Homo sapiens: one gene and its partners. Changing the gene in region 1 together with any one later gene gives a genetic interaction. Each region holds a gene or a part of one and is shown in the gene's direction. Other genes may lie near its edges. The genes, in order: SLC39A9, NUDC, EP300, SLC39A3, TRAPPC13, CARM1 and SEC23B.

What was found.
Region 2: changes in SLC39A9 (region 1) and NUDC together harm fitness more than expected from each alone (negative genetic interaction), as found in Homo sapiens cells (one large-scale study listed by BioGRID).
Region 3: changes in SLC39A9 (region 1) and EP300 together harm fitness less than expected from each alone (positive genetic interaction), as found in Homo sapiens cells (one large-scale study listed by BioGRID).
Region 4: changes in SLC39A9 (region 1) and SLC39A3 together harm fitness less than expected from each alone (positive genetic interaction), as found in Homo sapiens cells (one large-scale study listed by BioGRID).
Region 5: changes in SLC39A9 (region 1) and TRAPPC13 together harm fitness more than expected from each alone (negative genetic interaction), as found in Homo sapiens cells (one large-scale study listed by BioGRID).
Region 6: changes in SLC39A9 (region 1) and CARM1 together harm fitness less than expected from each alone (positive genetic interaction), as found in Homo sapiens cells (one large-scale study listed by BioGRID).
Region 7: changes in SLC39A9 (region 1) and SEC23B together harm fitness less than expected from each alone (positive genetic interaction), as found in Homo sapiens cells (one large-scale study listed by BioGRID).

Annotation. Positions count from the first base shown.
Region 1 is NC_000014.9:69,450,396-69,454,505, forward strand, and holds part of SLC39A9 (zinc transporter ZIP9), read left to right. Parts: intron 1-2,845; coding exon 2,846-2,914; intron 2,915-4,110. UniProt on the Homo sapiens protein: Transports zinc ions across cell and organelle membranes into the cytoplasm and regulates intracellular zinc homeostasis. Participates in the zinc ions efflux out of the secretory compartments.
Region 2 is NC_000001.11:26,942,089-26,946,198, forward strand, and holds part of NUDC (nuclear migration protein nudC), read left to right. Parts: intron 1-571; coding exon 572-688; intron 689-782; coding exon 783-977; intron 978-3,301; coding exon 3,302-3,385; intron 3,386-3,479; coding exon 3,480-3,598; intron 3,599-4,041; coding exon 4,042-4,093; 3' UTR 4,094-4,110. UniProt on the Homo sapiens protein: Plays a role in neurogenesis and neuronal migration. Necessary for correct formation of mitotic spindles and chromosome separation during mitosis. Necessary for cytokinesis and cell proliferation.
Region 3 is NC_000022.11:41,144,232-41,148,341, forward strand, and holds part of EP300 (histone acetyltransferase p300), read left to right. Parts: intron 1-2,507; coding exon 2,508-2,585; intron 2,586-3,605; coding exon 3,606-3,715; intron 3,716-4,110. UniProt on the Homo sapiens protein: Functions as a histone acetyltransferase and regulates transcription via chromatin remodeling. Acetylates all four core histones in nucleosomes. Histone acetylation gives an epigenetic tag for transcriptional activation.
Region 4 is NC_000019.10:2,731,671-2,734,777, reverse strand, and holds the end of SLC39A3 (zinc transporter ZIP3), read left to right. Parts: exon of another isoform or gene 1-252; intron 253-1,292; coding exon 1,293-2,027; 3' UTR 2,028-2,254; downstream 2,255-3,107. UniProt on the Homo sapiens protein: Transporter for the divalent cation Zn(2+). Mediates the influx of Zn(2+) into cells from extracellular space. Controls Zn(2+) accumulation into dentate gyrus granule cells in the hippocampus.
Region 5 is NC_000005.10:65,659,523-65,663,632, forward strand, and holds part of TRAPPC13 (trafficking protein particle complex subunit 13), read left to right. Parts: intron 1-1,176; coding exon 1,177-1,375; intron 1,376-2,527; coding exon 2,528-2,628; intron 2,629-4,110.
Region 6 is NC_000019.10:10,874,426-10,878,535, forward strand, and holds part of CARM1 (histone-arginine methyltransferase CARM1), read left to right. Parts: intron 1-4,110. UniProt on the Homo sapiens protein: Methylates (mono- and asymmetric dimethylation) the guanidino nitrogens of arginyl residues in several proteins involved in DNA packaging, transcription regulation, pre-mRNA splicing, and mRNA stability.
Region 7 is NC_000020.11:18,514,004-18,518,113, forward strand, and holds part of SEC23B (protein transport protein Sec23B), read left to right. Parts: intron 1-1,646; coding exon 1,647-1,733; intron 1,734-4,110. UniProt on the Homo sapiens protein: Component of the coat protein complex II (COPII) which promotes the formation of transport vesicles from the endoplasmic reticulum (ER).

The DNA of each region.
Region 1 (4,110 bases):
TAAAATTTTTCCTCCTCAGTAAGTTGAAAGAAATTTCCATTTAACGAATGATTTTTTAAAAAAAACCTGATTCTAAAGATATATATGGTGATTGTCAGGCCAGTCACAATGGTGCACGCCTGTAATCCCAGCACTTTGGGAGGCCAAAGTGGGAAGATGGCTTGAGGTCAGGAGTTTGAGACCAGCCTGGACAACACAGCAAGACCCATCTCTACAAAAAAGTACTTTAAAAATTAGCCAGGCATAGTGGCACTTGCCTGTAATCACAGCTACTCAGGTGGCTGAGATGCGAGGGAGAATCATTTCAGTTCGAGGCTGCAGTGAGCTGTGATCGCACCACTTCACTCCAGCCTGGGCAACAAGCAAGACTCTGTCTCTAAAAAAATAAAAATAAAATGTGTGGGCGCAGTAGTAGCCAGTAATCCTATACAGAGAGTTAAATGTAGCTTGTGTTCCATTATTCTTCTTCCTGTTTTATCTCTGAAGTCATTATTTTTGCTGGCTTTCGTGTCTGATGACCTGGTTTTACCTATTTTCTGCAGAGTTTTATGTATTATAAAATGTCAATAAAATGTATTTATTAAATTTATGCTAAACTGCAGTCTTTATAGGTTTATAAAAACTTTCTAATTTTAAAGCCTCTAATTGTTTAAGATCCTAAGTATAACTGGATGATAAGCCTTTGTATAAAAAAAGGCCAGAGCCAGCTTGCACACAGTGTAATTTGACTGTTCCTTCCAGTTCAGGGTAGCATTGAGCTATTTGCTGGCGCAGAGTGATTAGGGTCTTTAGCTTCCCTTCTTTGCAGTGTTTTAATAGGAAAATATCATTTATTAATAAGAGGTAATATCTTACTTTACTTGTATACTTTTTCCATTGTAAACCCCTTCCTTTTGTATGCTGGACTCCTAAGAAGATTAAATCCCCTGTAACTTACTTGACTGATGTTCATCTGTCATTTTACCTGGCATTTTGATGTCCCCATCTTTTAACTTTATTTACTTGTATGTTTCCTACAAGAGCAGTAACATCTTTATTTAATACACATAAATGCTTTTTTCACTCTTCAGCAAGGATTTATTAAGTAACTATTGGGTGCCTAGTGCTGTGCTACATTCTGTCAGACATGTTAAAGGAAAAGAGAGGTAGAAAATTTAATGCTTTAGCATTTACAGTCCATCTGGGGATAGAAAACATTCAAGTGAAAATGGCTTTGTATATCTGAGGTGGTGTATAGAGGAACCTTTGAAGACTGCCTGCATAGATCACTAGGTCTAGGCAAGGGGAGAGTTGCTTTGAGCTGGAATCAATTTTTTAAATTTATTTTTAATTTTTCTTGAGACAAGGTCTTGCTCTGTCACCCGGGCTGGAGTCCAGTGGCATGAGCATAGCTTGTTGCAGCCTTAAACTCCTAGGCACAAGTGATCCTTCCACCTTAACCTCCTAGATACCTGGGACTACAGGCATGCACCACCACACTTGGCTAAATTTTAAAAATTTTGTAGAGATAGGGTCTTGTGATGTTGCCCAGGCTGGTCTCAAACTCCTGGCCTCAAGTGATCCTCCCCCATCGACCTCCCAGACTGCTGAGATTACAGGCATGAGCCACCATGCTTAGTCTTCAATTTTTTATTCTTTCTTGAGGGAAGTGGTTCTGTAGTTAGACTTTGATTGATGTCCAAGTTTTGGCTTAACAAGCTGAGAAGTTCAGTATGTGCCAAGAATTACAGGTGAGGAGACTTGGGGAAAGGAGAATAAGAAGGTTTTGTTCGATGGTGTTAAGCAAACTGGTTTAACTAGACTGGACATTGAGAAATAAGTTGGAACTAGTTGATAAAGGGCTTAAGAACCTATCTAATATAGCAGTTTGCCCTGAATTTGAAAAGCAGCAGATTCTTAAATGGTAACTGACACATCATAAGGGTGGTGGGTTTTTTGTTTGTTTGTTTTTGAGACGGAGTTTCACTCTTGTTGCCCAGGCTGGAGGGCAATGGCACAATCTCGGCTCATTGCAACTTCTGCCTCCTGGGTTCAAGCAGTTCTCCTGCCTCAGCTCCCAAGTAGCCGAGATTACAGGCGCCCGCCACCATACTCAGCTAATTTTTATATTTTTTAGTAGAAACGTGGTTTCACCATGTTGGTCAGGCTGGTCTCAAACTCCTGACCTCAGGTGATCCACCTGCCTCGGCCTCCCAAAGTGCTGGGATTACAGGTGTGAGCTACTGTGCCCGGCCAAGGGTGGTGTTTTCAAACGATGAATCTGACACGGATGTGTAAGATTAATTATATTAGGGAAAAATGAGAGTAGGGAACCTGATGCTAATTTAGGTTTGAGTGATGAAAATTTAGGTTAGGGTGATGGCAATAAAAATGTGACAGATGTTAGAATGAAGATAAAGTTGCAGGATGCTAAGGAAGAGATAGACAATGACAATTAGATTGGTCTGGAAAGAAATGATCAGAGGCCATAGATCACTTTCCTTGGAATAGTAGAGGAAGAGGATTAAGGAATAGGAGGAAGTTGGGGCCATTGGGGGTTACACATTTCAGTGATTTTTCTGTTAAGGTAGGGCTGAGTCAAATGAAGAGTTCCCTCTTAGCCACCTCTTCAGGACAGGGAAATCTTCTAAGGGTTTGAAGCAGAAAGAAAAAAGATAGTGGCCGGGTGCGGTGGCTCACGCCTATCATCTCAACACTTTGGGAGGGTGAGGCGGGCGGATCATTGGAGGTCAGGAGTTTGAGACCAGCCTGGCCAACATTAGTGAAATTCTTTCACCTCCAGACCAATGTTTGAACAGTTTCTGTCTCACATAGCTTAACGCTGTCTTTCTCATTTTCACTTTAGATCCAGAAGCAGCAAGGTCTAGCAATTCCAAAATCACCACCACGCTGGGTCTGGTTGTCCATGCTGCAGGTAGGGTTGGATTGCAGTGGAACTTCTTTGTTTTCTATCGCACAGGGGAGACCTTAGTGTTTATATTTCAGGGACCGTCCTCATTGAATGCTCTTGGACTGGCCTTTGAGGAAAAGGTTTCTTAATGAAGTCCTCCAACACAAGCACAAGCTTGGTGTGCTCAGTGTCAGGGGTTTGCAAGCTAAGAATGGTTTCTATACTTTTTAATGGTTTAAAAAAAAAAAGAGAGAGAGGAACATACTGTAGCACATGAGAATTATATAATTCAAATTAAGGAAGTTTTATTGGAACACAGCCTTGCCCATGTATTTATGTATTGTTTGTGACAGTGAATTTGATTAGGGAAAAATGAGAGTAGGGAACCTATTGCTGATTTAGGTTTGTTTGAGTGATGAAAATTTAGGTTAGGGTGATGGCAATAAAAAATGGAGAAAGGCAAATGTGACTGATGTTAGAATGAAGATAAAGTTGCAGGAGGCTGAGGAAGAGATAGACAATGACAATGATCCATCTCTTTTGTTTTTGTGCAACAGTGGCAGAATTGAACAGTTGCAAGAGACCAAATAACTGCAAAGCCTCAAATATTTACTGTCTAGCTCTTAAGAAGAAGTTTGCTCTTTTCATTCTTGGCTCTAGAATGTCATCTGGAAAAGAGCCTTGGCGCTTCTGTCCTGAACAGCTCTGTTACCAGTTTATATGCAAAACACCAGTTTAAGCAGAAGTGGTATGCAGTGGAATGCAGAGATCTTAGCATTGCTGACAGGGTACACTTTAGAATCATAACCCAAACCTAGTCCTAGTAATAGAATTCTGTCAGTGGCAAAGAAAGGCATGTGAAAGGTGGTACACTGTTACCTGGCCCTTTCTAAGTATAATATGCTTTTCTAACAAATTTCATTCATTCAACCAGTGTTTACTTATTAAGTAGTAATCATCTATATAGAGTTCTAGTATCTTTATTTTATTTATTTCTTTTTTTGAGACGGAGTCTCACTCTGTTGCCGAGGCTGGAGTGCACTGGCACGATTCGGCTCATTGCAAGCTCCACCTCCCGGGTTTAAGCAATCCTCCTGCCTCAGCCTCCCAAGTAGCTGGGACTATTTTGTTTCTTAACCTATAAGATTAAGAGATGCTTCCTTTGAAATTCTTCTTTGGTATTTCCCTTGTTAGAATTTGATTAACTAATCAATGGATTT
Region 2 (4,110 bases), on another chromosome or scaffold:
CAAGACCAACTTGGCCAAGATGGTGAAACCCCATCTCTACTAAAAATACAAAAATTAGCCAGGCATGGTGGTGGGCGCCCGTAATCCCAGCTACTCGGGAGGCTGAGGCAGAGAATTGCTTGAACCCGGGAGGCGGAGGTTGCCATGAGCCGAGATCACGCCACTGCACTCCAGCCTGGGCGACAGAGCAAGACTCCGTCCCAAAAAAATAAAATAAAAACCGACTGACCTTAACCTGTTTATGGCAAGAAAACCCAATAGCCAGAGAGGGCAGTGCCTATTACAGGTCCCATCTGAGGTTGGCTGGGTTCTGTGGGCCCAGCCATATCCTTTGTCACATGGTATAATATTAATAGTCTGAGCTCCTCTCAGACTGAGATCAGAACCAAGTTTTACCTGGTTCCCAGTGGACCAAGGCTTGGGGGTCTGCCCCTCTGTGGAGTGGGCAGGGACCAGGTCTGTTTTCTTTTGTGGCTGTATGCCCAGTGCTAGCCCTGGGCTTGGCCCAGTGAGGGTTCAATCTGTGTCTTGTCTGTCAAGTAAGTAGCTGAGTGTCCCTGATTGTAAGCAGGATACTGAGGAAGATGAGGAGGAAGATGAGAAGGACAAAGGAAAACTGAAGCCCAACCTAGGCAACGGGGCAGACCTGCCCAATTACCGCTGGACCCAGACCCTGTCGGAGCTGGACGTGAGTGTCAGGGACCAGAGGTAAAGCTTAGGGGGCCAGCCTGGGGTACCAGCAGCACTTAGTGGCCTCTTCTGACTGCCTCTGCCCTATGCAGCTGGCGGTCCCTTTCTGTGTGAACTTCCGGCTGAAAGGGAAGGACATGGTGGTGGACATCCAGCGGCGGCACCTCCGGGTGGGGCTCAAGGGGCAGCCAGCGATCATTGATGGGGAGCTCTACAATGAAGTGAAGGTGGAGGAGAGCTCGTGGCTCATTGAGGACGGCAAGGTGGTGACTGTGCATCTGGAGAAGGTATGTGAGGCCCAGCCCTTCTAGCCTGGGGTGTTGATGGAAGTAGAAGGGAGGATGTGTGCTTAGTTTACTCAGGAGCCATGCTGGGGGCATTGTGGGATTATCTTAATCCCCATGACAACACTCTTTAAAGTAGATCTGTCTCTATTTTATTTTCTTAAAGACAAGGTCTCACTCTGTTGCCCAGGCTGAAGTGCAGTAACACCTTCTTAGCTCACTGCAGCCTTGAACCCTTGGGCCCAAGCAATTCTCTCGCCTCGTCCTCCTGAGTAGCTAAGACTACAGGTGTACACCACCACGCTCGGCTAATTTTTGTTATTAAATTTTTTTGTAGAGACCGGGGGGTCTCACTATATTTCCCAGGCTGGTCTTGAACTCCTGGCCTCAAGTGATCTTCACACCTTGGCCTCCCAAAGTGCTGAGATTACAGGCTTGAGTCAGGAAAAGAGCTCGTTGATTTACCCAAGCTCCTACCTCTGGGAAGGGGTGGAGTCAGAATTGAAAGTCTTAGTTTCTAAAGCCACTTCTTTTTCACTAGGTTTGTACATGCATTCAATTCATCAAATACTTGAACACCTGCTCTGTGCCTGGTACTGTTCTTGTTCTAAGTGCTGGAAAGAGAACAGTGAACAAAACATAGGAAAATATGTGCCCTCAGGAAGCCTTCATTCTCAACCTCACTGCCTTTACAGAGAGGTAGGACACAGAGATCAGTAAATAAAGGTGGTCTGAAAAGGGCCAAGGGTCTGAGGAGAACTTCCCAGGGCACATAAGACCCTGTAACAGCCTGTCCGACTGGCACTGGCTGCCTTCACTCACTCACCCCTCCATGCCTCTGCACTTGCTTTGTCGCCCAGGCTGGAGTGCAGTGGCGCGATCTCGGCTCACTGCGAGCTCCGCCTCCTGGGTTCATGCCATTCTCCTGCTTCAGCCTCCAGTGTAGCTGGGACTACAGGCGCCCGCCACCATGCCTGTATTTTTTTTTTTGTCTGTTTTGTTTTCTATTTTTTAGTAGAGACAGGGTTTCACCGTGTTAGCCAGGATGGTCTCGATCTCCTGACCTTGTGATCCGCCCACCTCGGCCTCCCAAAGTGCTGGGATTACAGGTGTGAGCCACCATGCCCAGCCCTTTCCCTGCCTTTTAAATTTATTTTTTATTTTTTGAGACAGGGTCTTGTTCTCACCCAGGCTGGAATGCAGTGGCGCAATCACGGCTTACTGCAGCCTTGACCTCCCGGGCTCAAACGACCCTCCCACCTCAGCTTCCTGAGTAACTGCGAGCGCCACCCTACCTGGCTAATTTTTAAATGTTTTTTGTAAAGACAGGGTCTCATGTTGCCCAGGCTGGTCTGAAACTCCTGGGCTCAAGGGATCTTCCTGCCTTGGCTTCCCAAAGTGTTGGGATTACAGGTAGGAGCCACTGCACCTGGCACTTCCCTGCTTAAAAACTTTTTCTGGCTGGGCGTGGTAGCTCATGCCTGTAATCCTAGCGCTTTGGGAGGCTGAGGTGGGCAGATCACGAGGTCAGGAGTTTGAGACCAGCCTGGCCAAGATGGCAAACCCCATCTCTAATAAAAATACAAAAAATTAGCTGGGCATGGTGGTGGGCGCCTGTAATCCCAGCTACTTGGGAGTCTGAGGCAGGAGAATCGCTTGAACCCAGGAGGTGGAGGTTGCAGTGAGCTGACTGCACCACTGCACATGGTGGCTCACACCTGTAATCCCAACACTTTGGGAGACTGAGGCAGGCAGATCATCTGAGGTCAGGAGTTTGAGACCAGCCTGGCCCAATATGGTGAAGCCCCGTCTCTACTAAAAATACAAAAATTAGCCAGGTGTGGTGGTGCATGCCTATAATCCCAGTTACTCGGGAGGCTGAGGCCGGAGAATTGCTTGAACCCGGGAGGCAGAGGTTGCAGTGAGCCGAGATGGTGCCACAGCACTCCAGCCTGGACAAGAAGAACAAGACTCCATCTCAAAAAATATATATATTTATTTTCTTCCCATTTTAAATCTGGAATACTGCTTTGTGTCTTAAGACTCAGCCCGAGTGTCACTTTCAAACTTTTCTCCCTCCACCCTGGATGAATATCTCCCTTTCTGCTTTCTTCTTTCCCTTATCACACTGATTTGTAACTCTTTGCCTCTGTGTCTCCCCTAGCTGCAGGAAGGGCACAGTCTTGTACCTCTGGATCCAGTGTAGGCCTGCAAGGGTCTCAGGTGCAGGATGTGGATGGGAGAGAGTTTGGTTGTGAAAGGGTTAAGGGGTGATTCCTGGTGCACAGAGCAGGCCACCTCCCACCCTCTGGTTGTTCTCTTCACAGATCAATAAGATGGAGTGGTGGAGCCGCTTGGTGTCCAGTGACCCTGAGATCAACACCAAGAAGATTAACCCTGAGAATTCCAAGGTGAGCCCTGGCTGGTTGGGGGAGCTTCAGCAGGAAGGTGAGGGGCCTCGTTGTTTCCAGAGCTTCACCGATTCCTGTCACTGCCTGCCCTCAGCTGTCAGACCTGGACAGTGAGACTCGCAGCATGGTGGAAAAGATGATGTATGACCAGCGACAGAAGTCCATGGGGCTGCCAACTTCAGACGAACAGAAGAAACAGGAGATTCTGAAGAAGTGAGCAATTCAGAGACGGGGTTGGGGGACCGTGGGTGCCTGGGGGCTTAGACTTCGGTGACAGCAGTGAGTGGATCACTGCGCTGCCTCAGGAGCTGCCCTGCCCCCTTTCCAGCCATGTTTATGGCTTTATGGCTTTGGCTTGCCTACTCTTGTCATTTGCTGAGGTCATCTTGAGGGCAAGGCCGGCTCATGGTGCATGATAGGAGGGAAGGGGTAACAGGCGGTCATTGCCACCTACAGGAAAACAATGCCAGTGTTGGTGCCTCAGCTTCCAGCCTCGGGACTCAAATGCGTCTCAGATACCCTGGGCCCTGCTCCTGCCCAGCCTGGCTTGGTGTTGCTGAGGTCTAAAGAGATTAGACTTGACACGGGGGTGCTGGGAGAAGGGACAGCTTTAGAAGAGAAGGATGAGCTGTTTCATCTTGCTTCCGTTTCTCCAGGTTCATGGATCAACATCCGGAGATGGATTTTTCCAAGGCTAAATTCAACTAGCCCCTGTTTTTTCCTCC
Region 3 (4,110 bases), on another chromosome or scaffold:
TGTTGTGTGATAAAGGGTTTTTGATTATTTGACTTAATGCATATAGTTTGCATTAAGGGCATATATATTGAAATGTGAAAGATGGACATTTTTGTTTGTGTATATTTTCTTTACCTCTAAATATTTATATATATACATTTTTGAGATGGGGTCTGTTTCGCCCAGCCTGGAGTGCAGTGGTGTGATCTCGGCTCACTGCATCCTCCATGCCTCCCAAGCTCAAGCAATCCTCCCACTTCAGCCCCCCAAGTAGCTGGGACCACAGGCACACGCCACCATGCCTGGCTAATTTTTTTTTATTTTTTAGTAGAAACAGGGTTTCTGTATGTTGCCCAGACTAGTCTCGAACTCCTGAGCTCAAGATATCCACCCACCTCGGCCTCCCAAAATGCTGAAATTACAGGTGTGACCCACTGCGCCCAGCCTTTAAATATTTATCTTAAAAAATAGTATCAAGATGTTCCTTTAAATAATTCATCAAGTTTCCTTAAAATGACAAGAGCTGCCTCATGGAGCAATAATAGATACATTCGTATCTGCATCATATGGGGCAAATGTGGGCAGTAGGATTGCGGTTTTATTTTTAAACCATTTTCATTTGATTAGTCTCAAATACTTAAAAATCAGAAGATTTTGCATTTAAAAAGTCTGAATTTCTGGCTGCTTTAAAAAAAAAAGGACATGTCTGGCAGACTTGACCCCCTTTCTCCTACAGTGACACCTGTCTATAGCTGCACTCATGGCTGACTCTAGAAGAGCTGTGTTTTCTCTCCACTTCAGTCCTCACCATTCTCTATTGTTTTGGGTACTTAAAACAGTTTTACTTGGTATTAGCTGCTTGGCACTTGCCATTTAGCTTGGAACACCTATCCATATTGTTGACTTGAAAAAAAAGTTACTCATATCTTAGGTGAAAACATTGTTTTGTAGATAGTGTGCGTGAATACAGATATGTGTGGGGAGGAAGAGGAAAGGTTTATCTCAAGGTCATTTGTTGGATCCTGATTCATTTTTCTATTGATTTTTAATTTTTATGTAATGAGCATGGATTATGCATATACTTCTTATAAAGCTTGCAGAGTTACAGATAAAAGTTTATATGAATAAATGTTGAGCATTTCCTCTCTCAGTTTTGCTCATTTACTAAAGGTTGAAATTTGTCTGAAGGGATGGACATCTCCTTAGAAGAGCAGCAGGTCTTCCTCTCCTATGCCTGAGGCTTGAATGTACAGCCCTTGATGGAGGGTATGGCCAGGGTGGAGCCAGGTCACTACAGACATCTGTCCTTTCCGAGGGTGCTGTAAAAATATTTTCTCTGTGCACTATGTTGAAAGTACTACACTAGAGCATGTGCAGATAATCCAGGAAAAAGACCTTAGAATTTATGTATTTATATTTTAGGTTTTTTTTGAGACGGAGTCTCGCTCTGTCGCCCAGGCTGGAGTGCAGTGGCACGATCTCAGCTTACTGCAAGCTCCACCTCCCGGGGTCATGCCCCGGGTTCACGCCATTCTCCTGCCTCAGCCTCCCGAGTAGCTGGGACTACAGGCGCCTGCCACCACGCCCGGCTATTTTTTTGTATTTTTAGTAGAGACGGGTTTCACCGTGCTATCTAGGATGGTCTCGATCTCCTGACCTCGTGATCCGCCCGCCTCGGCCTCCCAAAGTGCTGGGATTACAGGATATTTTATTTTTTTAAGAATTATTTCTGTTTTTGTATTTAAGAGGTACATGATATGTAGTGTGGTATAATATGCATATTATTTAAAATCAATGTTCACAGTTTATGTGCATAAAAACGTTGTGCTACATGATCAAATTCGGCCACCATTAGACATGATTCATAGCTATTATCCATGGAGATACTCTGTTGCATGCCAACCAGACTCAGACTTTGTTAAACAATAACATATTAAATGCTATGATGGCCTCAATTTTTTTTTTTTTTTTTGAGACAGAGTCTTGCTCCATCGCCCAGGCTGGAGTGCAGTCGTGTGATCTTGGCTCACTGCAACCTCCGCCTTCCAGGTTCATGCGATTCTCCTGCCTCAGCCTCCTGAGTAGCTGGGATTACAGGTGCCTGCCACCACGCCTGGCTAATTTTTTTGTATTTTTAGTAGAGACAGGGTTTCGCCATGTTGGCTAGGCTGGTTTTGAACTCCTGACCTCAAGTGATCCACCCACCTCAGCCTCCCAAAGTGCCAGGATTACAGGCGTGAGCCACTGTGCCTGGCCTATAATGGCTTCAATAGCTTATTTTTCTATCAACATTGAAAGCACCCGGGCTCATAAAGGAATACCAACAAATCCACTTGGAGGCATTTTTCTGTATTCCAGAAATAACATTTTCTTCAAGCTTCTGTCTAGTTCAGAGCTTTATTTTGTGATTCATACTCAATTTTCAAAGGTATTATTAAAAATATTTTGTGGGGTTTGTGTGTGCAGTGAGTTTTTGTTTGGTTAAGGGAAGATGGTGCAAAGATACTTATTTCTCTTTTTTACTCTAGATGGCCCTCTACCTGACCCAAGTATGATCCGTGGCAGTGTGCCAAACCAGATGATGCCTCGAATAACTCCACAATCTGGTAAATAGTGAAAAAAATTTTTTTATTTTAAAAGAATCCCCGGTGTACTGCAAGATAATACTTGCTACCTGAACACCCGCTTTATGCCAACAGCAAGTGTCATGATTACCTGCCCATAGAGGAAGAGGGGGTGAAGAGCAGGTTGGCTGGCAGATCACAGGGCAGGTGACATTAAATGATCAAGTATCCATTAAAAAACAACTGCAGGCTGGGCATGGTGGCTCACGCTTGTAATCCCAGCACTTTGGGAGGCCGAGGCTGGTGTACCACCTGAGGTCAAAGTACGAGACCAGCCTGGCCAATGTGGTGAAACCCTGTCTCTACTAAAAATACAAAAAAATTAGCCGGTTGTAGTGGCACGGGCCTGTAATCCCATTTACTCTGGAGGCTGAGGCTGGAGAATCACTTGAACCCAGGAGGCGGAGTTTGCAGTGAGGCGAGATCGCGCCACTGGACCCCAGCCTGAGTGACAGCAAGACTTCGTCTCAAAAAAAAAAAAAAAAGCAGATTGTAAAATTTGTAAAATTCAGTTTGGAGATCCTGTTAGTTGATAATGTCTGTTTACTGCTACTGTGAATGAGACAGATTTATTTATACTTAGAAGGTTGAAAGCCAGTTTATTAGTCCTGATAGAATCAGGGCCAGGTGCGGTGGCTCACGCCTGTAATCCCAGCACTTTGGGAGGCTGAGGCGGGCAGATCACAAGGTCAGGAGATAGAGACCATCCTGGCTAACACAGTGAAACCCCCGTCTCTACTAAAAATACAAAAAATTAGCTGGGTGTGGTGGCGGACGCCTGTAGTCCCAGCTACTCAGGAGGCTGAGGCAGGAGAATGGTGTGAACCCAGGTGGCAGAGCTTGCAGTGAGCGGAGATTGCGCCACTGCACTCCAGCCTGGGCGACAGAGCAAGACTCCGTCTCAAAAAAAAAAAAAGATACAGAATCAGACATAAGAATTCTATCTTTTATTATTCAATTTCACAAAGGCATTCAGATCTAACATTTTGCTCATATTCACAGGTTTGAATCAATTTGGCCAGATGAGCATGGCCCAGCCCCCTATTGTACCCCGGCAAACCCCTCCTCTTCAGCACCATGGACAGTTGGCTCAACCTGGAGCTCTCAACCCGGTTAGTTTGACGTCTTTGGTAATCTCTTTGGCCTTTACCTGGTATTTTGAAAATCCTGTTTGTTCCTACTTTATAAATTCTCACAGTCATTTAAACAGACCATAACTCCTAGTTCTTCTGTAATTCTTCTGTATTTAACTCTACTAGAAAGCTGACCAAAAAACGAAAACAGCCAGTCCCTTGTCCCTGGAGTGTCAGTGTTTAGTGGCCTGCATGCGTTTTCACGGTCACTTCTCTTCCCTGATGTCTGTCTTCCCTCCTCCAGGCAGAGAACTGTCTTGCAAGGTTGATGGTGCGTTTTTGCCTGGTTCTTGAACTCGGAGAAGAGAGACTAGGCTTCTCCTGCTCCTTATGCGAACTCTTAACCAGTCCATCTCTCTACCTTGACCCTAACC
Region 4 (3,107 bases), on another chromosome or scaffold:
GAAACACAGCCTTCTGCTGCAGCAGAGGCTCACCCAGCGTGAACTGCCCCCAGGGAACACTGGGCGATGCCTGGGGACATTGTGGTTGTCACGATGGGGGGTGCTCCTGGCCTGGAGTGGGTGGAGGCCAGAGACACTGCTCAGCAGCACCCTGCAGTGCCCAGGACGGCCCCGTCCCAGAGAACAATCCAGCCCCGAATGTCAGCACCTTCCCCCTACCCGAGTTGTGAAAATAAAAAATGTTTCCAGACATTGCCAGGTGTCCACACGGGCAGAATCGCCCTGGTTGAGAACCACTGTGTGCGCGTGCTTGTGTGTGCACCTGCGTGTGCGCGTGTGTGTGCGTGCGTGTGTGCACATATGCGTGTGTGTGTGTGTGTGTGCACGTGCGCAGGTTGTAATGAAGTCTCCGCTGGGAAGGAAGCAGGGAAGCAGGCATTGTTGAGTGTCGATTGTGTTGTGATTTTCCTCCACTTTGGTCTCGAGGTCTCTCTGGAGGGTGGCTGTGAACTCTGGCCCTGCCGTGACGAGGCTCCAGGGAGCTGTTGTGGGCGTTTACAGCCTGCCTTTCATGAGACATTTCATCCTGGCGCATAGCCTAATGCCTGCGTGTCCGCCCCGTGAGCAGCTGTCCCTCCCATAGGAGTGTGTACCTCTTGCAGACGCCCTGCGGCTCCCGTCTGACCCACGTCTAGTTTCTCCCCACCAAAGTCTCCCCTCGCTAGGAGAGCCCTGACCAGGAGGAGAGTCGGGCCCAGGCATGTCGGTCAGGGAAGCAGAGAGGAGGCCCCGCGGCAGAACACGCAAGGCCAGTGCAGCTCTTTATGTGTTTATTTTGAGCCGGAGTCTCCCTCTGTCGCCCAGGCTGGAGTGCAGTGGCACGATCTCGTCTCACTGCAACCTCTGCCTCCTGGGTTCAAGCCATTCTCCTGCCTCAGCCTCCTGAGTAGCTGGGATTACAGGTGCTCGCCACCATGCCCAGCTAATTTTTGTATTTTTAGTAGAAACATGTTTCCCCATATTGGCCAGGCTGGTCTCGAACTCCTGGGCTCAAGCAATCCGCCAGCCTCAGTCTCCCAAAATGCTGGGGTCACAGGCATGAGCCACCGCGCTTGGCTGGTGGTGGTGGTGTTAATTCATCACAGGCGAGCCCTTCCTCTCCCACTTGTTTTAACCTCTGTGTGAATCGGGGATTTCTGGACTTTGCTTTGAACGGTGACATCTGGCCAGCCCTGTCGCCGCCACCCCTGAGCGTGGGTCTCTCTCTCTCTCTCGGGTGTCCCCGGCTGCAGCTCCAGAAGGTCCTGAGCCTCGGCCACATCAGCACCGACTACCCGCTGGCCGAAACCATCCTCCTGCTGGGCTTCTTCATGACCGTCTTCCTGGAGCAGCTGATCCTGACCTTCCGCAAGGAGAAGCCGTCCTTCATCGACCTGGAGACCTTCAACGCCGGATCGGACGTGGGCAGCGACTCGGAGTATGAGAGCCCCTTCATGGGGGGCGCGCGGGGCCACGCGCTGTACGTGGAGCCCCACGGCCACGGCCCCAGCCTGAGCGTGCAGGGCCTCTCGCGCGCCAGCCCCGTGCGCCTGCTCAGCCTGGCCTTCGCGCTGTCGGCCCACTCGGTCTTTGAGGGCCTGGCCCTGGGCCTGCAGGAGGAGGGGGAGAAAGTGGTGAGCCTGTTCGTGGGGGTGGCCGTCCACGAGACACTGGTGGCCGTGGCCCTGGGCATCAGCATGGCCCGGAGTGCCATGCCCCTGCGGGACGCGGCCAAGCTGGCGGTCACCGTAAGCGCCATGATCCCCCTGGGCATCGGCCTGGGCCTGGGCATTGAGAGCGCCCAGGGCGTGCCGGGCAGCGTGGCGTCCGTGCTGCTGCAGGGCCTGGCGGGCGGCACCTTCCTCTTCATCACCTTCCTGGAGATCCTGGCCAAGGAGCTGGAGGAGAAGAGTGACCGTCTGCTCAAGGTCCTCTTCCTGGTGCTGGGCTACACCGTCCTGGCCGGGATGGTCTTCCTCAAGTGGTGAGCGGCCTCGCCATTGTCCCTGCCGCCGGAGCCCGCCGGGAGCCCCGGGCCGGACACAGGCCGCGTCCCCCGGCCGCGCGTCCCCCAAGAGCGAGCACTGTGGCCCTGGGCCACCACCTGTGCACAAGGGGCCTCCCGGGACCAGGCTGTGCCCCCGATCCTACACCCTGAGCCTCAGAGCACTGCTACTTTTTAAAATACTTCTTTCTCTTAAAAGTCTTTACCAAAGCTGTGTGGCCATGTCAACCTCGGGCCGTGGGGTGTGGCAACCCACGGGCGGGAGGGCCAGGACCTGGGTCCCGGTGAGATCGGTCAGGACCCTCCTCTCCCTGCCGCACACCCCCAGCCTGTGAATAAGGACGGGAGCATTTGGCTGCTGTGGCCAGAGTGAGGGCCGCGCCGCCTGTGCCTCAGGAGCCAGCTGGGGGCCCTGAGGCCCCAACGTCTACCCTACTCTGTTGCCAGGATCTCGCCGCCCGAGCCCCGAGTGTCTTGAGGCTTATTAGAGGTTGGAGTCACTGCGATGGGACAGCCGGGCTCCGTCCCTCCTGCCACACAAGGCTGTACCCCCTGTGAGTGGGCCATGTACCCTCAGGAGTGCCCTCTCCTTTTCCCTTTGCTGGGTGGCTCCTGGAGCGGGGACCCCTGGGCCAGGACCCCCGGGCCAGGTGAGTGTCACAGTTTCCTGAGACTCACGAGCAGGGCCAGGAGGCAGCTTAAAGATCAGTCCTCAGCTCTGCTTACACACACCGGGGTCTCCAGAGGAAGATGGACCCCACTAGCGGTGGGGCAGGGGCCCCGCGGTGCGATCCCTCCCGTGGACACAGGGACGCTGCTCCCGAGAGGGCAGGAGCACGGGGGACGAGCAGCCGGGCGTGGGCTGGGGCAGCCCTGGGCTCCTGGCTCTGTGGCAACCTCCGGAAGGCCTGAGCCGTCGTCCCGGCAACCCTGCCGGGTCTGGGGAGGTGAGAGCTGGGGAGGGACGCCTTTCCTCGGGGATTTTGCTCTGCCTGGCTCGAAGCCGCTGTGGCGCCGCGGAAGGGAGCCGGGCATGCCCGCCTGGGCTGGGTTTTTCCTTGAT
Region 5 (4,110 bases), on another chromosome or scaffold:
AAGAGTAAGGGTGAATGTGGGTTTAAAAAAAGAAATACTCTCTCAACATCAAAAGAAAAGGACATAGGAATAGATGGTTTAATACTTTGTGAAAAGGAAATACATACACCTTTCCACAGCTAATTTAAAAGAGGAAGAATAAATGTAAAGTTGACAATAATACAGATAAGAAAGTAATAGGCTGGGTGTGGTGGCTCATGCCTGTAATCCTAACCCTTTGGAAGGCTGAGGCCAGAGGATTGCTTGAAGCTATGAGTTCTAGACCAACCTGGGCAACTTGGCATTTTTTTTATTTAGCTGGGCATGGTGGTACACTCCTGCATTCCTAGCTCCTTGGGAGAGAGGCAGGAAAATCGCTTGAGTCCACAAGTTCAAGGCTGCAGTGAGCCATGATTGCACCACTGTACTCCAGCCTGGTGACAGAGAGAGACCTTGTATTTTAAACAAAAAAAAAAAAAAAAAAAAAAAGAAGAAGAAGAAGAAGAAGGTAATAGCTTGGGATAGCATCTGAATTTCTTAATTAGGAATGAAAAGTTTGCTTTTATATTCTTAGGTTGGTTACACACAGAAAAGTTCATAGCCTCTTTCATCCTCACTGAGGAAAACAATTTTCCATTCTTTTCTAGATGTTTTAGTTCATTTTGAAAATTAGTTTAGAATGGTATGTCTCTTATTATTCTAAACTCTTATCTTTGATAATTTTAGAGAAAAGAGACAGGATACTTAAGGTTCTGGTTTCTGTTGCACTTTTCAGTTAATTGATACATGTTCAATTTTATAAGTAATATATTACATTCTATTATAAAGAACCTCCTTGAACCCAGAAGTTAGAAGTTACAGTGAGCTATGATCATACCACTGTACTCCAGCCTGGGTGACAGAGCAAGACCCTGTCTCTTAAAATTATTTAAAAAAAAAAAAAGGGACCCCTGCCTTTCGGGGTCCAATTACTATAAAGAACCTCAAGATTTTCGATATCAACTGAAAAAAATGAAGGAAAAATAAATCATTGCAGTATACGTTCTTTTTATTTGTATTGAAATCGTTAACATGTTCTGTTGTTGATCTTTGGAGGGTACATCATCCAGTTCCTATCCAAAGGAACAATCACAGCCATGGTTTTTCTTTTAAAAGATGCTAGAGAATTTTCTCCGTCTCTGTCTCCACCCCTCTCAGTGTGTCTACGTTTGGGTCAAGAGCATATTTGCAACCAATGGATACACGCCAGTACTTATACTGCCTAAAGCCAAAGAATGAATTTGCAGAAAAAGCAGGCATCATTAAGGGAGTAACAGTAATTGGAAAATTGGATATAGTATGGAAAACAAATCTAGGTGAAAGGGGAAGGTTACAGACCAGCCAACTTCAAAGAATGGTGAGTCTGGAAAAAACTTCGCTGGGGTTTTGGTGTGTGAAAGACAGGTAGTTAGAACAACTTAATTTTTTCTACATCCAGCAGTAAAAAATTGGAGCACTATAAAAGGCATTACTACTACTGGAGCAGAAAAGATTAATAGTGTCACTGATAGGTAGGTCGAAGACTGGTGTTGCCATGAATGAAAAATGGTCAAATGTTAATTTATCCTTAATACACGTGTTCTTTATCACACAGAAATTAAAATAACTGTTATTAAGTGTCTCTCCTTTGGTAACACATGCTCACTCTTCTTCTGATTTCCAAACACATTAAGGTTTTCTATTTTGCAATGTCCTGAAACTCTTGGACTTACTTCATTCACCTACTCAGTTCCTACCATTTTTAAGATGTTAAAAATCTGAGGCATCTCCTCAGAAGGTGAGTTCTACTAAAGTTATCTTATAAGCATTGGTTGCATATTTTACCTAATTTCTTCTCTGAGAGTAGGGATAGCTACCAGGCTTCTTTTTCTTATGCTTGTAAGAATATACGACAGGATTCTCCTCCCTTTATGCTGAATATTACCTGTTTTGACATATTCCAAATTTTACTTTTCTTTCCACTGTTTGAGGCAATAATTTTTAAAAAATGATGATGATGATTCCTGGGCCCACTTAAATATAGCCGTTAGTTATTTTTCTGCCATGGCCTGTTCCAAGCCTTCGTGTTGTTATAATCCATCCTCATCTGTGCGTCTTGTAAAAAGTCATGATTTTCTTCCTGGCTCCTTTCAACATCATCCCCCTCTTTCTTTAGAAAATAACTTTACCTATTTAGAGTTACACACATAGAAGCTACAGCATCTGGAAAGTGTCCCTTCAACTCCCTGAAATTTCTTTACTGACTACTTACCTGTGAGATTCATCTTAACTCTACTGAACATGGAATAATTATATAACAAAAACAGTCCAGGTCTGCCAGGCTATTCCACAGGCAGTAGCTGCAAAAGAATTTAAAATGAGAGACAAGTAAAGTGAATCAGAAGTATTTTCTTAGAACATCAGCTTGGAAACCCAACAGCTGTTGAGTAAATGTGCTGCTGTGGTGCCTTCATTAAAATGGAAAGGTTTTGTGATAGATATACATTAACTGTGTTGCTTGTTTTCTTAGGCTCCAGGTTATGGAGATGTTAGGTTGTCTTTGGAGGCAATACCAGATACCGTAAACCTTGAAGAACCTTTTCATATTACCTGTAAAATAACAAACTGCAGGTAATGCCACTGTTTGTAGATGGATGTCCTTTCTACCTCACCTGCCTAGAAGATAATTTTAAAATCTTTTTGTTACTATCTCCTTTTAAGTTTTCCTCTTGACATACAGCCTTCTCTGATGTTGATATTGAGTACTGTAAAATTCTTCATCTGGTAGCAGTATAATTACATATTTTTAAGGGCCTATTGTATTATGCATCTTCTGTATTTTATTTCATTCATTTGTCACACCCTATGAGGTAGGTATTCATTGTTTATACTTCCTTCACCAAAACATGAACTAATAGGTTCTTATGTATTAATATATTATGAATTGAAGTAGCAAGATTTTTTGAGGCATGCTTGTACTTGAGCTGTATCTTGAGTATTAAGAAACCAAACATTGCTTATGGATTTAATGTAAGGGGAGATCATTGATTCGAAAACTGGGTTTTGACAGTAAAGAGAGAGCATAATCTGAACTGTCAGGAAGCAAAGAGCACAGGGCTTTGAAACCAGAAAAAAATAGAATTAAGTTCCAGTCCTATGCCCTCTGCTCCTACTTGTATTACCACTTGGTTTGTATTATTATTTGGGGTATTTTTATAATATTGCAGTGATGAATCCTAGTCCTCTTAGTGTGAATGTATAATCCTTTTAATTCCATATTTATTCTTTTTGGTATTAGAAAGATAGGAAATATTTATCCTTCAAAATTACAGAAATACCCACTTCCTCTATGAAGCTACCTAGACTTTCCAAAGCACAGGTATTCATGCCTTCTCCATCATAGAAAATTTTAACTTAGTTTTTTAGTGACACTCATATATTGTGTATTTAGTGACACTCATATATTACTGTAAGTATTAGTCTCTTTCTCACTGGACTGGAATTATTCAGGAGAAGGGACATGGCCTTACTCAGTGTCTGCCACATCGTGAGCTCAGTAAACAACAATACAGGGCAAAGACCCTGTGCTTATAGGGTGTTACAGGGTGTTGGGGAATTTTTGGTTTTTTTTTTAAGTTTTTTCAGCAAATCAGTTTATTGACCAGCTCACAAGTGTTATTTTTTTCAAAAGTTAACTTCTCTTGGTGTTCACTTTAACTTTTGGTGATTCATACAAGTTTTCTAAAAAGCACATGTCTCTTAGATCTTTAGTTTCCTCTCTATATAAATGTCATTCCCTGCCCCTACACACCAGGGACATGCACAGACACATGCACACAACATATATAAGTCTTACTGGATTTTTGTGAAATTAACAATATTCATGTAGTGCATCCACCTTGGTCTCTGGCACATAGTAGCCATCTCAAATGCTTGTTAGGGAGATTCAGGCATATACAAGTTAATATTATAAAGTCAATATGTCTAAAAAAAATAAAATTTAAATAAGCAATTTAAAATTTGGAGCCAAGTATAAGAATAAACAGCTAAAAGCCATAAGTAGCCGTGAATGGTGGTAGGAGACTATTTTTCATTATGAGCCTTTTGGTTATT
Region 6 (4,110 bases), on another chromosome or scaffold:
CTGTTGCTCAGACTGGAGTGCAGTGGTACAGTCTCAGTCTCAGCTCACTGCAGCCTTCCATGGCTAAAGTGATCCTCATACCTCAGCCTCCCTAGTAGCTGGGACCACAGGCATGTGCCACACCCAGCTAATCTTTCATATTTTTTGTAGAGAAAGGGTTTTCACTGTGTTGGCCAGGCTGGTCTCAAACTCCTGGGCTCAAGTGATCCTCCCTCCTTGGCCTCCCACAGTCCTGGAATTACAGGCATGAGCCACCGCACCGCCCTCTTTATCCTTAAGTAACATTGATATGGAGATAAAAAACATGGGTTCTTGGCCAGGCGTGGTGGCTCACACCTGTAATCCCAGCACTTTGAGAGGTTGAGGCAGGCGAATCACTTGAGGTCAGGAGGTTGAGACCAGCTTGGCCAACATGGCAAAATCTCGTCTCTGCTAAAAATGCAAAAATTAGCCAGGTGTGGTGGTACCTGCGACTGTAGTCCCAGCTACTCCGGAGGATGAGGTGGGAGGATCGCTTGAACCAGGGAAGCAGAGGTTACAGTGAGCTGAGATTGCACCACTGCATGTCAGCCTGGGTGACAGAGCAAGACCCTGTCTGAAAAAAAAAAAAAAAGCATGGGTTCTGGAGTTGGAGGTGATCAGTGCTGGGTGTATTAATTTCCCATGGCTGCAATAACAAATTATGACAGATTTTTGGTTTAAGACAACAGGAATGGATTCTCTCTCAGTTCATGGTCAGAAGTCTGAAATCATGGTACTGGCAGGGCCACAATCCCTGGAGAGGTTCTACAGGAAAATCCTTGCATCTTCCAGATTGCAGTGGATCCAGCTGTTGCTTGATTTGCAGCAGCGAAACCCAAGTCCCTGCGTCTGTCTTCACTCCTGTGTCTTGTGTCCTCTTTTTTCCTTTTTTTTTTAAAGTGAGATGGAGTCTCGCCGTGTTATAGGCTGGTCTCGAACTCCTAGGCTCAAGTGATCCTCCCACCTCAGCTGTTCTTTTCTTTTCTTTTTTTTTTTGAGACGGAGTCTGGCTCTGTCACCCAGGCTGAAGTGCAATTGCGCGATCTCCGCTTACTGCAAGCTCTGCCTCCTGGGTTCAGGCCATTCTCCTGCCTCAGCCTCCCGGGTAGCTGGGACTACAGGCGCCCGCCACCACGCCCGGCTAATTCTTTGTATTTTTAGTAGAGACGGGGTTTCACCGTGTTAGCCAGGATGGTCTCCATCTCCTGACCTCGTGATCTGCCCACCTTGGCCTCCCAAAGTGCTGGGATTACAGGCTTGAGCCACCGTGCCCGGCCCCAGCTGTTCTTTTCTTATAAGGACACTGGGCATTGGATTTAGGGCCCACTTTATATCTAGGATGATCTCATCTCAAGATCCTTATCTGCAAAGACCCTATTTCCTAATAAGGTCACCTTCACAGATTCCAGGGGTTACAACTTGGATGTCTGTCTTTTTTTTTTTTTTGAGATGGAATTTTGCCCAGGCTGGAGTGCAATGGCGTGATCTCGGCTCACTGCAACCTCTGCCTCCCGGGTTCGAGCGATTCGCCTGCTTTGGCCTCCCAAAGTCCTGGGATTACAGGGATTAGAGGCATGTGCCACCATGCCCGGTTAATTTTTTTTGTATTTTTAGTAGAGATGGGGTTTCTCCGTGTTGGTCAGGCTGGTCTCGAACTCCTGACCTCAGGTGATCCGCCCACCTTGGCCTCCTAAAGTGCTGGGATTACAGGTGTGAGCCACCGCCACCAGCCTCACATATGGCTAATTTTTAAGTTTCTTCTAGCGATGCGGTCTCACTATTTTGCCCAGGCTGGTCTTGAACTCCTGGGCTCAAGCAGTCCTCCTGCCTTGGCCTCCCAAAGTGCTAGGATTACAGACGTGAGCCACTGCGCCCGGCCAATAAATATTTATGTCCATGTTACTGACAGCAGTGTTCGTTGGTGTGGCATGGGAATGAGCTAGCTTTTCTAGGAGGAGCCCCCTATGCTCCAGGGCTGCCCCGCTGTCTTGGCTCACCGGCCATGGGAGGGAGTCCTGGGCCATGATCTGTACCTAACATAGGAGGCCCAGGAGAGGCACGTGGGGAGGACTTCCAGCCCTGTTCCTTGACGTCTGCACCCTCCAGGGGAAGGATGACAGCTGCAGAAGGGCCTGTCTCTGTCACTCTGTAGTGAACAGTTACTTCTTGCCATCTGAAGTCACCCTGGCCTACGTCCATGAGATTGGCCAAATGGCAACTACCAACACCAGGCCATTTTCCCTGTGCAGAGGGGGAGGCCCTTTGGCGTGGGCTTCCTGGGCTTGAGGAAGCTTTGGCATGGCCTCTGGAGTTCCTGGGCATAGGCTGCCCTCCCTTGGAAAGGAGGCAGTTTCTCAGGGAGGGGTGCCGGGAAAGAGAACAGAACAAACTCTCACTTCCCCAGCCCTGTGGCGCTCTTTCTGGAAATGACTGTGTCACTTTTCTTTCTTGGTCAGCACGAGTCAGTGTGGCCAGTGCTTTAGACTCTCCCATCCCCTTGGCTCAGAAGCTTACACAGCAGCATGGGCTCCGTCAGGGGCTAAACTTCAGTTTGTGAGGGGCATGCCATGGGGTGGAAAGTTCAGAGAAAAACCCTTTGTCCAAAGAAGGTGAAGAATGGCCTGCTGTCACCGAACCAGGGGCCCTTGTGACTTCCTTTGGTTACACTCCTGGGATCCCCCTGACAGCTGGGGCAGGGGTATAGAAGAGCTTGTTATGTGCCCCATCTTTAGGACATCTCGGTGTCAAGCTGGAGTGACAACAGGGAAAGTTAGTAACCCCAGAAAGGCATTTGTGTTTCAGCGGTGCCTGCGTGTGGCTAATGGATACCGTCATTTATTGAGCATTTATCCCGTACCAGACTGTGCATAAACTTGTGTTGACTCAAAATGCTTGACCTTGGGGGCAGCTAGGGAAAGGGCAGTGATATAAATTAGGCCTATGGGCCACATTGAGCCTGTGGCCTATTTTTATCTGTGTTTGTATTTTATTAGTGAGACAGAGTCTCACTGTGTTGCCCAGGCTGGAGTGCAATGGCATGGTCTTGGCTCACTGTAACCTCCACCTCCCAGGTTCAAGTGATTCTCATGCCTCACCCTCCTGAGTAGCTGGGATTACAGGCCTGTGCCACCACCCTGGCTAATTTTTGTATTTTTAGTAGAGACAGGGTTTCACCATCTTGGCCAGGCTGGCCTCGAACTCCTGACCTCAAATAATCTGCCTGCCTCAGCCTCCCAAAATGCTGGGATTACAGGTGCGAGCCACCGCACCCAGCCTGTGTTTTATTATTTATTTATTTTGAGATGGAATCTCGCTCTGTTGCCCAGGCTGGAATGCAGTGGCGCAATCTCGGCTCACTGCAACCTCTGCCTCCCAGGTTCAAGCGATTCTCCTGTCTCAGCCTCCCGAGTAGCTGGGATTACAGGCACATGCCGCCATGCCCAGCTAATTTTTTGTATTTTAGTAGCTCACTGCAGCCTCTAACTCCTGGGCTCAAGTGATCCTCTGGCCTCATCCTCCCAAGTAGCTGGGACTACAAGCACATGTCACCACCCTTGGCTAATTTAAGCAATTTTTTTAGAGACAGAGTCTTGCTGTGTTTCCCAGGCTGGCCCCAAACCCCTGGCCTCAAACCATCCTCCTCCTGCCTGAGCCTCAGAAGTAGCTGGGATTATAGTCACGAACCGCTGGGCCCGGTGTGGCCTATTTTTGTACAGACAAAGCTAAGAAAGGCTTTTACAGTTTTTGAGAGATTGATTAGGGAAAAAAACTAAAACCCAATCCACAAACAACAATAATCAGTTGAGACCACAGTGTCCTGCAAAACCTGAAATATTTACTCACTGGCCCGAGGCAGGGGAAGCTTGTAGACCCCTGGGATAAATGAATGAGGCAGGCAGGAGTTGGGGTCTGTGGGGAGTTTGGCCCCAGCCAAAAGAGAAACCAAAAAATCCTCAGGCCGAATAGAGCATACTTCTGAATTGTGTGAGCCCCTTGTGCCAATTGTGGCGCTTACTGTATGTTACCACTTACTCTGAAAAGAGTTCTGTGAGGTCAGAGATACCAACCCCAATTTACTGGTGGAAAAAC
Region 7 (4,110 bases), on another chromosome or scaffold:
AAACTGAGTTAATGAGTATAAAGGACTTAGAACAGTGCTTGACACATGGTAAGTGCCATATAAGTATTTGGTATTATTATGCTTACCTAAGATTGTCACCTGCCAATTTATAAGTATGATCTGCAAGTCTATGTGTCCTAAGTGGAAATAATCTTTTGTAACCTTCCTAGCTGGACAGTGTGGGGGTTTTCTAGCTCTAAATGAATGTAGAGCTGGAAGACGGAGGGATCAGGGTGATCTCCGTCTCCTTTGCTCCCTTCTGTGCAGCTGGCTGACTGCGTGGGTGAACAGGGCCTCTCCAGGTTGCTGGGAGGTGGCTGGTGTGTCTGTAGTCATAGATCGAGCTTATCCCTGCTGGGAGCTGCAGTCAGTGGGCAGTCATGGCCAGGATGGGGCTAGAGTCTTCTGCTGGCTCTGACTGAGATTCTTGCTGGGGCTCGCAAGCTCAGTTGTACCCTTCTCTCCCAACCAGAGGCCCCTAAAGCTGCCTGTCAGCTCCTCAGCAGCACTTGCATTTGGTCACTCTGAGGTCACTGGCCTGGAGTGATCATCTGCTCACTTTGGGGAGATGCACCTCAACTTGTATTTTTAATGTAAAGCTAAAGACTATTTGGATTATAAGCCAACCCACAAGCTGTGAATTTAAAACATTTGCAGAGAGTTTTAAAAACAAAAGAAAATGCCTGTGGCATTATGTTGACTGGAAAAAACAAGTTCCACATTGTATATATGGGATGTTCTCAACTGTGCTTAAGTCTGGAAGGAAATCTGCCAGGAGGTTGACAGTAGCTGCTTCTAGGTGATAGGATTTTGGGGGGCTTTTCCTCCTTTGTTTGCTTCTATTTTCCTGGACTTGCCAATTTTTCTACATTCCGTATGTATTACTTTATTGATAATAGCCAAAATAATAAACCTAAATAAAGTCTTTGGCTTTATTTAGACTATTAACTATTGATGAGATAGGTGAAATCTCAGCCTTTAATTTGCAGGGCAAAACTTAAGAAATGGTTTTCATTTGTGTGTTTTTGGCTAGGCATGGTGGCTTATGCCTGTAATCCCAGCACTTTGGGAGACTGAGGGGAGAAAATCACTTGAAACCAGGAGTTCAAGACCAGCCTGGGCAACATAAAGTGTGCTTTTAAACATTTAGAAGTTACAATAGCTTAAAACTGCTCTAAAAAATATTTTTTAAGAGGACAGAAATGATATAAATATAAGGCAGGGTTAGAAGTTTTAAATGCTGATTTTTATGTTTTTTAACGTGTCCTGTATTTTGTGCTTTCAGAATAAATACATGGTCATTACCATTTTTTTTCTTCTTTTTTGAGACAGAGTCTTGCTCTGTTTCCCAGGCTGGAGTGCAGTGGCGCAATCATGGCTCACTGCAGCCTTAACCTCCTGGGTTCAAGTGATCCTCCCACCTCAGCCTTCTGAGTAGCTGGGACTACAGGTGTGAGCCACCACGCCCAACTAATGTTTTTACTTCTTGTATACAGACAGGGTCTCACAGTGTTGCCCAAGCTAGTCTGGAGCTCCTGAGCTCAAGTGTTCCTCTCGTCTTGGCATCATTATCATTTTTACACATGGAAAATAAAAAGTGTAATATAGTTATGCCAACCCTAATAAAACTGTTTCCTTCTTTTCAGTTTCCTCCAGCTTATGGAGGCATATCTGAGGTGAATCAACCTGCCGAATTGATGCCCCAGTTTTCTACAATTGAGTACGTGATACAGGTAATTTCTTTGTTGTGCATTTAATGAGCAATGTTAAATACTGAATTTCTCTTGAAATCCTTTGTCTTCCATGTCTCTTACCTGGGCAGGGGACTTAAAGCTGTGAGGGCAGCAGGATCCTAACCTTTAGGTTTGATGTGTGTGCATCTACTGGCATTGTTTTCAAGTCCTGACATTATAGAAGGCTACTAAAAAGGTAGAACTGATTAAATTCCAAACCTGTTCTCTGTAGCCTTCTTCATCTCAGTTGATGGTACTCCATCATCTAGTTGTTTAGCTTCAGAACCTTAGACTTATCCTTGACCTCTCTCTTTCATGTTCCATATCTAATTCACTGGAAAATCCCATTGGCTCTATATTTGAAATTTATCCAGAATCCACCCACTTCCCCCTCCCTACTACCAGCTGCCCTGGGCCAGCCACTCCTTCTTACTTGAATCTTCTAATTGTTCTCCCTGATGTTACCATTGCCTATTTATACATTATTCTTCACCCAGCAGCCACAGTAATTCTTTTTTTTTTTTTTTTTACAAATTGTATTTATTCATTTATTCAGTGAGGAAAGTTTGTTTTGCTTTCAAATATTGGCCTTTGTGAATAATGCTTCAATGAATATAGCTGTTCAAATAACTGTTTACCCATATGTTGGAGGTTTGCATTTCTGCTACATTGTGTTTTATTGGAAAACTTGTCTGTCTTTATGCCAGAACTAAACTGTTTTTATTACTGTAGCTTTGTAATGTGCTTTGAAATTAGAAAAGGTGACATTGTTTCTTTTTTTTAAACATTTTTGGGCTCTTTTTTTTTTCTTTTTCTTTTTTTTTTTTTCTTCTGAGATGGAGTCTTGCTCTGTTGCCCAGGCTGGAGTGCAGTGGCACGATCTCGGCTCACTGCAAGCTCTGCCTCTCGGGTTCACGCCATTCTCCTACCTCAGCCTCCCGAGTAGCTGGGATTACAGGCGCCTGCCACCACGCCCGGCTAATTTTTTTAATATTTTTAGTAGAGACGGGGTTTCACCATGTTAGCCAGGATGGTCTCGTTCTCCTGACCTTGTGATCCACCCACCTCGGCTTCCGAAAGTGCTGGGATTACAGGCGTGAGCCACCGCACCCGGCCACATTTTTAGGCTCTTTATTGTCCTTTGAGATTCCGTATAATTTGTTGGTTACTTTTTCTATTTCTAAAAAAAAAAAATTGTTAATTGAAAAGGGATTGCATTGAATCTGTAGTTCACTAGGCAGCATGAACATCTTCACAATATTAAGTCTTACAACCCTTGAACATGAGCATGCTCAAAAGTGAGTTTAATTTCCATATATATGTTGATATTTTTGCTTTCTTCTGTTATTGATTTCTAGTTTTATTCCATTTTTATCGGAAATAATTATCTCATGTGTCCGTGTGAAGAGACCACCAAACAGGCTTTGTGTGAGCAACAAGGCTCTTGATTTCACCTGGGTGCAGGCAGGCTGAGTCCGAAAAAGGAGTCAGCAAAGGGTGGTGGATTATCATTAGTTCTTATAGGTTTTGGGATAGGCAGTGGAGTTACGAGCAATGTTTTGTGGGCAGGAGGTGGATCTCACAAAGTACGTTCTCAAGGGTGGGGAGAATTACAAAGACCCTTCTTAAGGGTGGGGGAGATTACAAAGTACATTGATCAGTTAGGGTGGGGCAGAAACAAATCACAGGTGGAATGTCATCAGTTAAGGCTATTTTCACTTCTTTTGTGAATTTTCAGTTGCTTCAGGCCATCTGGATGTATACGTGCAGGTCATAGGGGATATGATGGCTTGGCTTGGGTTCAGAGGCCTGACATTCCTGTGTTGTTATATTAATAAGAAAAGCAAAACAAAATAGTGAAGTGTTGGAGCAGTGAAAAAATTTTGGGGGTGATATGGAGAGATTAATGGGCGATGTTTCTCAGGACTGCTTCTAGCGGGATTAGGGGCAGCGTGGGAACCTACAGTGGGAGAGATTCAACTGAAGAAAGATTTTGGCGTAAGGGGTGATGTTGTGGGGTTGTTAGAAGGAGCATTTGTCGTATAGAATTATTGGTGATGGCCTGGATGTGGTTTTCTATGAATTGAGAAACTAAATGAAAGACACAAGGTCCAAATAAGAGAAGGAGAAAAACAGGTATTAGAGGACTAAGAATTGGGAGGACCCAGGACATCCAATTAGAGAGTGTCCAAGGGAGTTCAGTGTAATTACTTGTTTGGTTGGTGAGTTTTTGGGCTCTATTCTTGACAGAGTCCTTTTTGTTAAGTTGGAGGCTGAGCTTGGTGAGGTGTGTTTTTAAAAGACCATTAGTTTGTCCTACCGTTCCTGAAGATTGAGGATGGTAAGGGGTATGAAGTTTTCACTGAATACCAAGAGC